Homo sapiens: one gene and its partner. The protein of the gene in region 1 purifies or fractionates together with the protein of each later gene. This does not show direct contact. Each region holds a gene or a part of one and is shown on either strand. Other genes may lie near its edges.

Region 1 (3,150 bases):
ACATTCAAACTATTGATTCAAAGAGTGGGAAATATTTAAATATGTACTTTGTTATGCCAGTTTAAAAAATAATATTGTGTTCTGTTTTCATCAAATGAGCTTCACTTTTTCTATTTTATATACAAAAGGGCACTAAGTATATGCCCAAATGACACTAAGGCAGTGATGTGATAACCCGTAGTTTATTTTCCCTCCTCCCCAGTAGAACTGACTGGGCAGGGGTCAAATAGAGAAGAATTAATCATCCTCTGGTAATCATCCTCCATTGTGAGCAGGTTACTTTGATATGGGCCAGTAGTGATTGCCGAAGGCTTTTCTATGCCCTAGAAAAATTTTCTAGAGTTCTATTGATATATACTGAATGATCTTGCAAAAGGGAATGTTTAGGATTTTTTTTTTGCAATATGTTTTAAGTGGGCCCATTATCTACATCTCAAAGATAATTCTCTCTTCCCCTTTTCCCCTTTTGTATTTCCTTTTCCTACAGACAAATATACTAGCTCATAAAATCATCTTGAACACATCCTTAAACACCTGTTTAGCAGCTCTTTCCCCTAGAAAAGGAAGAAAGTTTAGTCTCAATACATCAAACACTACATCATTTTTCCATCCTAAAAAATCTCAGGTGCTTAAAATGCCACAGCAAAACTGTGTGAATGTCAGTAAGTTTTTGGCTATATTTTTAACCCTATTTTGGGCTTAAGACAAAGTGAGGAAAATGTCATACAATTCTGTAATACACTGATACTCCAAATGAACATTTTTATTTCATGTTATTTTCATTCTGCAGCTCCTTTGGTGAAGATTAAACAGAGCTTAACAAAACTGAAGCAAGAAACTGTAGAGATGGACATTAGAATTGGCATTGTGGAACACACACTACTCCAATCAAAGCTGAAGGAGAAGTCCAACATGACTAGGAACATGCATGCCACAGTTATTCCAGAACCAGCAACAGGCTTTTATTAAAACATACTGGTTTTCATGTTTCTGATTAGTTGGGTTTTTTATATCAAACTATATTTCATGTTGCATAGATTTCAAAACATAATTTTATGTTCAATGGGTATTTTTTTACATATACATACTCACATATTATATCATGGTGATTATGATGGTTAAAGCCTTTACACTGAATGTAATGTTTAATAAAGAAATTACAAATTCTCACTTTCTAAGAAGCTTTCACTAATCATTACCTATGTTAAAGCTCCCACCTGGTGGCTCATTTTTCATAGCATTCCTTGTGTAAGCCAAGGTATATGACCTGCGTTTTCTGCAGATGCTGCTGCTGTCACAACATGAACTGCTGACACAGTCCTTTACCTTGCTCCACCTCTGCAGTGATCATAAGTGCTTTGTGCCCAGAGGCCACTGAAGATGGTAGGCAGGATTCTTTCCAAGAACCCAAACTGCCTTTGCCTCAGCTTTATGGTTACCTAAAATTGCCACTTTTTTTAGGTTAAAAAAAACTTCAGTATCCTCATTAACATTTGAAGTTGGTTTCTTATGAATATTTCGTGGCTAAAATGATTTTATAGGGAATCTATCTTCTAGGATCTAAGCCACTAAATAAAAGGATAAATGAATGATGATAAGTCAGTCACTCATGTTTGACTCTGTTCTTAGAATGAAGAGAAGGTGCATATGCATGTCTCAATTTCTACCTTTTTCTGTGGTATCGGCTATACTAGGGAACCATTTTGTAGAAGAAGGAACGATGACAGGTCGCATGAAGATCAGCCTCTAGTACTGATGATCTTTACTTATGCATCTTCCTGAGCAACTTTCTAGGCTAGGATTTCTAAATTGGTGAAAAAAGCAGCATTAGAGTGCCAGAATTAGCACTGGGGAAAACTGGCCAGGGGAACACAAAGCAGGAGACAGCCTGCGTTAATTTTTTTTTTTTAATAATTTTCAAAAGCAGTGGTAGAAAATTTGATAAGAATGCTTTATGTTTAGGACAACAAAAATAATTTTAAAAAGTTATTTTTTACCCTAATACTTTTCTCCACTGAATATTATTATTTTTTTCTTAGCTTTTTCTTTCTAGATGTATTCCCCAACATGCTCACATACACAGATCTTTCCCTTTCCTTACTAGACCTCTCTTTAGTTTAAGATAAGTTTAGACAGGAGAAAGTGTATGTAAACTACCTGAAAGGATGACAATCAATACAATGACAAATATGCCAGTTTATTTAATTTGTTTAAAAAAAAAAAGGCAGAAAACCCACCATGGGAAAATAAGCATTTTTTAAAATCTGAAGTTGCTCTTTTCCTGTGTGGTCTTTGGGAGGAGTCTAATACAAAAACTGAAAACCTTTGGTCCTGGGAATTTATTTTCATGGCTGTTGTCATGGCTGAGTAGTTTTTTGATGAATTCAATCAATGCAGAGAACGCTTTTAGATAAATCAGAACTCTCCTTAAAATGCATTTCAATCAGAAGCAAAGTACACCCATTATTTATGCAGACATGTAAAAAATCTAAAAATTCTTGCAATGAGTAGTATAAGCCACCTATTTTTACTTCCTTCTCTGAAATATTCCAGTTAACTCAGCTTGGGTTCTGTGCTCCTCCTCTCTTCCTATAGAACACTGTGCATACCTTGAATAAAGAGCTTATTATACTATATTGTTATTTTCTTCCATCCTACCTAATGAATTGAGCTACTTTAGGATAGGACAAAGTCTTTTATTTCCGTATTCCTTGCCAGGTGCCCAGCACATAGAAAGTGTCTAGTAAATGTATTGAGTTAGTAAATGGATGAGTAGATGACTGGCACTGTGTGGATCCAGGATACCTTCTAGCTCCCATTCTATAGCATGAAGAGTTTAATGACATTAAGCCTGTGTGCTTGGTATAGTTTCAAGATAGCGATTAAAAACAATGGGTTCTTTTCCTATGGTATTGGATTAGAATTAGAAACATCAGTATGAACTCATGGGTTTTTAAAAGTAAGTATAGATTAATAGAAATATAGAAATATTTAACATGTAGTAATACACACACACATATTTCCTAGTTGTGTCCTCTGATAGAGCCTAGTAGCAGTGACAGCCCAATTACAACTGTGGGCACTCAGATCTTGATGTCTAAATTCTCTTCTTTAAAAAAAAAAGGAAGTCTTAGATTTCTGATTCCTGGG
Region 2 (7,037 bases), on another chromosome or scaffold:
AACTCAACAAATGTTTGTGGTGTTCATTTCCAAGTCCTGCTCTCTTGAAAGCACTAAGGCTTTTCCTGAGGTGACCCCAACCTATGGATCAACAAGTATTAGTATTACTGTTTCTTAATCTGTTTTATAGTAAATCTAAATATGGTTGTATAGTTCAACCACTCTATTTAAGATTTCTCTAAATACAAGGCGACTGATCTTTAAAACTTGTGTTATTTGGGTCCTATGTGGTCACTAAAATTAAAAAAAAAGACAACTCAGAAACATGAATGTCATCCTACGGATTCCCCTCAGAAATAACCACTGTTAACATTTTAAAACACTTTTTAATCAGCTGAATTTGAGTCAAACCACTGTTGACATTTAAAAATACTTTTTCTTCATGACATTTTATAAGGACGGGTGTTTCTTCCTTTTAGCAGTAAAAAGAAATGAGATACTAAAGAGAGAAATGAAATTCACAGCTAATCCCTCAATTCCATTTTCATGTATAGCCATCTACTTCTCCCATTGAACTTAAATATATGCTTTTTAGGTAGCATTTTTGGTATTTTAAATTTTATCTCCTTTTTGCTTTCCCTTGTAGAAAGTTGACAAATAGTCCCTAAAGCTGTCAATAGGTTGGAAATAAGAAGGAAAAGTAAAGACAATATCTAAGTTAATAAGTAGTTGCTGTGTGATGGGGAACTGAATGAATTGTATTTTTCCTTGGACAGATTTCACAGAGATGATGAGAGCCCTGGGATACCCTCGACATATTTCTATGGAAAATTTCCGTACACCCAATTTTGGACTTGTATCTGAAGTGCTTCTCTGGCTTGTGAAAAGGTTCGAACGGCACTTTATTGACATCTAAGAGTGAATACTGGGTTTTATTTATTAGTCATCTAGAAAACAGGACACAGCTGTGATGCTGCAAAAGGGAAAGTTTTTGGAATTTGACAGACCCAGCTGTATTCTGTTACAAAGGAGTTGTGGCTGGGCACAGTGGCTCACTGCTCTCATCCCAGCACTTCATAATCTCAGTCATTCAAGACTAGCCTCATCAACATAGCAAGACCCTGTCTCCATACACAAAAGAACAATTAGCTGAGCCTGGGTGGTACACACTCATAGTTCCAGCGACTCAGGAGGCTGAGGCAGGAGGATCACTTGATCCCAGGAGTTTGAGGCTGCAGTGCCACTGATCATGCTATTGCACACCAGCCCGGGCAGATTGAGACTGTGTCTCAAAAAACAAAATCAGGCCGGGCGCAGTGGCTCACGCCTGTAATCCCAGCACTTTGGGAGGCCGAGGCGGGTGGATCACGAGGTCAGGAGATCAAGACCATCCTGGCTAACACGGTGAAACCCCATCTCTATTAAAAACACAAAAAATTAGCCAGGCGTGGTGGCGGGCGCCTGTGGTCCCAGCTACTCAGGAGGCTGAGGCAGGAGAATGGAGTGAACCCGGGAGGCGGAGCATGCAGTGAGCCGAAGTGTGCAGTGAGCCGAGATAGCGCCACTGCAGTTCAGCCTGGGTGAAAGAGCGAGACTCCGTCTCAAAAAAAAAAAAAAAAAAAAAAAATCAGTGGAGTTTAAAGAATGCTGTGGGAGTGGGAAATATACCAGGAAGTCGTGAAAGGAGACGACTATTCCTCAGTAGGATGCTGGGCCAGGCTGCTCTTCAGCCCCTCATGGCAGAGTGACAGGGGCCTTTTTGCACATTCTGATCAGTACACTGGATTAGAAATAATGGAGATTTCTTTTTCTGTGAAAAAATTGAATATGTTATATGATTCAGGGTTGGCAGCTTTTTCTGTTAAGGACCAGATAATATTTTACCTTTTGCTAAATATAAAATTCATAAGATCTCTATTGCGTCTCTTCTTTTTGTTAAAATGTAAAAACAGTTCTTAGCTTGCAGGCTGTACAGGTCGGAGGCTGCAGTCTGCTGACCCCTGGTTTCAATACCTTGAAGAAAATAACTTCACCAACTCTGCTGCTGCTTAGAGCTGACTAATCGGCCCTAGCACTGATCTCTGAGTCAAGGGCTGTCAGCCAGGGTAGCAGTTCTGATTAGCTTCATGACATGGTGAGATCTGAGAGAGATTTAATTTTATAAGCTGAGATCCACATTTAGTTTTTGAAATCTGTTTTTCTTAGGTGGGGATTTGCTCCCTTGGTATTTGGTTTTGCTTTTGAAGTTTGCCTTGATCTCACTCTCCCACTTGGGGACTTGGAGAGCGTTGTGTTCCAGACCCGCTGTCCTCTCAGTTGCCCACATTCTCTTTAGTAGACTTTCTCCTTGGTTAACCCGTGCTCTCTCCTCTTACCTCTCTTGATAGATATGAGCCCCAGACTGACATCCCGCCTGACGTGGATACTGAACAGGACCGAGTTTTCTTCATTAAGGCAATTGCCCAGTTCATGGTTAGTGGACACTTATTTTGTGGAGTTGTAAAATTAAATAAACTAGAAAGGATGACTCCTTGTTAGGGCGACTTTCAAACTGTGTAATTGAGTTTTTCTTTCTTTTTTTTTGAGATGGAGTCTCATTCTCTCGCCCAGGCCGGAGTGCAGTGGCACAATCTTGGCTCACTGCAACCTCCGTCTCCTCGGGGGTTCTCCTGTCTCAGCCTCCCGAGTAGCTAGGATTAGAGGCACACGCCACCACACCTGGCTAATTTTTGCATTTTTAGTAGAGACTGGGTTTCACCATGTTGGCTAGGCTGGTCTCAAACTCCCGACCTCAAGTAATCCACCCTCCTTGGCCTCCCAAAGTGCTGGAATTACAGATGTGAGCCACCACGCGCCTGGCCTGAGTTTGCTTTCTAAAACCATTCCATTGCTGGGTTTCTGTGGCACCATTTCACCAGCGAAGTTCTTTTTGTTTGTCTTTTAATTCATTATTTGTTAAGAATTTTGTTTATGCCAGGTGTGGTGGCTCACGCCTGTAATCCCAGCACTTTGGAAGGCCGAGGTGGGCGGATCACGAGGTCAGGAGATTGAGACTATCCTGGCTAGCAGGGTGAAACCCCGTCTCCAGTAAAAATACAAAAAATTAGTTGGATGTGGTGGCGGGCACCTGTAGTCCCAGCTACTCGGGAGGCTGAGGCAGGAGAATGGTGTGAACCTGGGAGGCAGAGCTTGCAGTGAGCCGAGATCACGCCACTGCACTCCAGCCTGGGCAACAGAGCAAGACTCTGTCTTAAAAAAAAAAAAAAAGAATTTTATTTATTTATTTTTGAATAGATAACATATTTCATGGCTCACAAATTGAAAGTAGGCTGGGCGTGGTTGTTCATGCCTGTAATCCTAGCACTTTGGCAGGCCAAGGTGGGAGGATAGCTTGAGTCCAGGAGTTTGAGAACAGCCTGGGTGATGTAGTGAGATCCTGTCTCTACAAAAAATAAATTTAAAAAAAATTAGATGGGCCTGGTGACACGTGCCTGTAGTCTCAGGTGCTTGGGAGGCTGAGGTGGGAGGATTGCTTGAGCCCGGGAGGTTGAGGCTGCAGTGAGCCGGGATCATGTCATTGCACTCCAGCCCAGGTGACAGAGTGAGACCCTATCTCAAAAAAAAAAAAAAAATTAAAAACATTATGAAACAAAATGGAGTAAAATGACTTTTTACCCTATCTGCCCTGGGCCAAGTTCCATTCCAAATAACCACTATTTTAAATCTCTTCCAGAGTTTGTGTGTGTGTGTGTGTGTGTGTGTGTGTGTGTGTGTGCAAATAAAAATATATATTTTTCCTTTGTTTTACACAAATGGTACTGTATTCTACTTGATGTACTTACTGTACACTACAAGATGTTTAGCATCTTGCTTTACTTAATGGTATATTTTAGAGAACTTTCCAAATACATATAGAATTTCCTCATTCTGTTTACGCCTGAGTGGTATTGCTTGCATGGATTTGCCATAATTTATGTAATTTATATAGGTAGGCTTTTAGGTTGTCTGAAGCTTTGCTCTTTGGAACAGTGCTGTAACAAATAACCTGTACATCTCATTTTGTTTGTGTTTGAGTGTGTCCCTAGAATAAGTTCTTAGATTTGGGATTGCTGGGTCAAAAGATATGTGCATTTGTAATTTTGATGTCTTTTACCAAATTGCTCTCCATCAAGATTGTCCCAGTTTATACAACCACTCACAATGTTTGAGTCACTTGAATGCTTTGCTTTTATTAGGTTATATCCCAGTTGTCAGCAGAGGCATTTTCAACTCACCTACATGGGATTTAGTTTAGACATTACATGGAAAGGGCCTTCAACTTTTTTTTTTTTTGGTCTAAAAATAGGCCACCAAGGCACATATAAAACTCAACACTAAGAAGCTTTATCAAGCAGATGGGTATGCGGTAAAAGAGCTGCTGAAGATCACATCTGTCCTTTATAATGCTATGAAGACCAAGGGGATGGAGGGCTCTGAAATAGTAGAGGAAGATGTCAACAAGTTCAAGTTTGATCTTGGCTCAAAGGTAAGGACAACAAAAGCCTTGTAGTGGGCGATGGAGCGTTGATTTCTTGAGCTCTGAAGTGGAAGGAGTCTGCTACAGCTCCGCTGCTTTTCTTCCTCCTCAGCTGAGGGCAGTTTGTCAGTTTTGTGCTCATCAGCATTTGGATAAAGTCAAAGTCACAATCCACTAATTCAACTATTTATTAAAAGCTTAGTATTTGTCAGGTAGCATTCAAGCGCTGAGGATACAGTTGTGAACAAAAAGGACAAAAATCGTGTGTTTATTCTCTTCAGTTAGGGGAGTCAGACTGTGAACAATAAGAGGTGTGGAAGGCCAGATGCAGTGCAGGCTGTGGAGAATAATAAGCTGGGATGGGGATGGATGCTGCCCAGAGTGATCTTAAATCGGGTGATCAGGAAGGCCTCATGGATTGGATGGTGTTTCCAGCAGAGATCCAAGGGAGGGAAAGAGTGAGTTGTGCGGGTGGCGGGTGGCGTCAGGGTGTCTCAGGATGATAATTTGTTTTGGGCTGGGTGCAGTGACTCACTCCTGTAAGCCAAACACTTTGGGAGGCCGAGGTGGGAGGATCCTTTGATGCCAAGAGTTCCAGACCAACCTGGGCAACATAGTGAGACGCCATTTTTACCAAAAAAAAGAAAAAAATTAGCTAGGCGTGGTGGTACACACCTGTGGTCCCAGCTGCCCAGGAGGCTGAGGTGGGAAGATCTCTTGAGCCCAGGCAGTCAAGCCATGTTCATGGCACTGCGCTCCCGCCTAGGCAACAGAACGAGACCTTGTCTGGGGGGAAGAAAAAAAATGTGTTTTGTGTGTTTGAGGAAAAGCAAGGAGGCCGTGTGATGAGGGTTGGGATTGACAGACCCTCTGGCGCCTGGGAAGCCCCTGGAAAGCCTTTGTCTTTGCCTCTAAGGTGGGAATCGTTGGGATCCAAGCGGAACCTTCTGTGCTTATTTCCCGTCCAAAGGGTTGCTCTGGCTGCTGAGCCGCCATCAGACCGAAGCAGGCGGCAGGGCTGGAAGCAGCGAGCCTGTTTGGAGAGTGAGGGGTGACCGTGGCTTTGAGCAGAGTGCTGGTGGGACAGGTGCCGTCAGGTGTCAGGGAGCGACCACAGCAGCAAGCCAGAAATAAAGGTTAAGCCGTTACTCTGAGGCCCAAGGCCTCAGAGCAGGAGACCTAGGAATGAAGGCCCCGGGGCTGGGAGTGCACCTAAGAGTGTGGCCACGCAGGGTACGTGAAACCACAGTGCACTGGCTGAGCTCCAAGTCTGCTGCAGGGAAGAAAGCTTCCCCTGTGAGGCCTGCTAGGTGAGGCCTTGTCATGGTCTATAGTTGGGCTTGAAAAGCCACACACAGCTTTTTTGTTTTGTTTTTGTTTTGTTTTGAGACGGAGTTTCAGTCTGTGGCCCAGGCTGGAGTGCAATGGCACGATCTTGGCTCGCTGCGCCTCTGCCTCCCAGGTTCAAGAGATTCTTCTGCCTCAGCCTCCTAAGTAGCTGGGATTACAGGTACACACCACCATGCCCAGCTAATTTTTTTTTTTTTTTTTTGAGATGGAGTTTCACTCTTGTTGCCCAGGCTGGAGTGCAATGGCACAATCTCAGCTCACTGCAACCTCTGCCTCCCAGGTTCAAGTGATTCTTCTGCCTCAGCCTCCTGAGTAGCTGAGATTACAGGCATGCGCCACCACACCCAGCTAATTTTTTACTTGTAGTAGAGTCAGGGTTTCTCCATGTTGGTCAGGCTAGTCTCGAACTCCTGACCTCAGGTGATCTGCCCGCCTCAGCCTCCCAAAGTGCTAGGATTACAGGCGTGAGCCACCGCACCCGGCTTTGTATTTTTTTTTTTTTTTTTAGCAGAGATGGGGTTTCACCATGTTGGCCAGCTAGTCTCAAACTCCTGACCTCAGGTGATCTGCCTGCCTCGGCCTCCCGTAGTGCTGGGATTATAGGCGTGAGCCACCGCGCCTGTCCTCACATGTGGGTTTTTAACCAGGAGCGACACTCGTCAGCAAGAGAAGTGTCTAGAGATTGGGGCATATTTTGATGGTAGATCTCACGGGATGAGGCATGGGTTGAGAGTAAGTCAGGTGCTACAGGCCGGGTCTTGGGGCAGCCGTGCGGCAGAGCTTGCAGAGCTCATGGGTGTGTTCCGCCTCTGTGCTGTACTCTACGGGAACCACTGGCCACATGTGGCAAGCACAACTGAGGAACTGAGTTGAGTTCTGCATTTTCTTTAATTCTTAAGTAATTTAAGTGAAAATGGCCACATGTGGCTATTGGTTACTATATTAGACATCACTGCTCTGAAGTTTTTTGTGTGAGCCCCTGGAAGGATGAAGTTGCCATGTACTGAAGCAGAGAAGGTTCTGCACATGCTCCATTTGCCACGCCGATTGGCTGTCCAGGTGGAGATGGTGCACAGGTAGCTGGTATGTGAAACTAGAGCCCAGGGAAAGCCCAGGCTGGAGCTGGGAGCTGGGGAGCAATCAGCACACAGATGGTATTAAAGCCTTGAGGGTAGGAGCAGAGCCAGCAGAAAAGACGGGGGGTCCAGGAATGAAACTCTGACTCGCTCCA

What was found. Proteins that work in one complex are often made in the same cells at the same time.
Region 2: the proteins of IFT57 (region 1) and CLUAP1 purify together in Homo sapiens (affinity purification with mass spectrometry; 6 studies listed by BioGRID and IntAct, with this or other methods). This does not show direct contact.

Annotation. Positions count from the first base shown.
Region 1 is NC_000003.12:108,160,296-108,163,445, reverse strand, and holds the end of IFT57 (intraflagellar transport protein 57 homolog), read left to right. Parts: intron 1-790; coding exon 791-969; 3' UTR 970-2,634; downstream 2,635-3,150. UniProt on the Homo sapiens protein: Required for the formation of cilia. Plays an indirect role in sonic hedgehog signaling, cilia being required for all activity of the hedgehog pathway.
Region 2 is NC_000016.10:3,504,004-3,511,040, forward strand, and holds part of CLUAP1 (clusterin-associated protein 1), read left to right. Parts: intron 1-716; coding exon 717-828; intron 829-2,327; coding exon 2,328-2,412; intron 2,413-4,285; coding exon 4,286-4,465; intron 4,466-5,890; exon of another isoform or gene 5,891-5,966; intron 5,967-7,037. UniProt on the Homo sapiens protein: Required for cilia biogenesis. Appears to function within the multiple intraflagellar transport complex B (IFT-B). Key regulator of hedgehog signaling.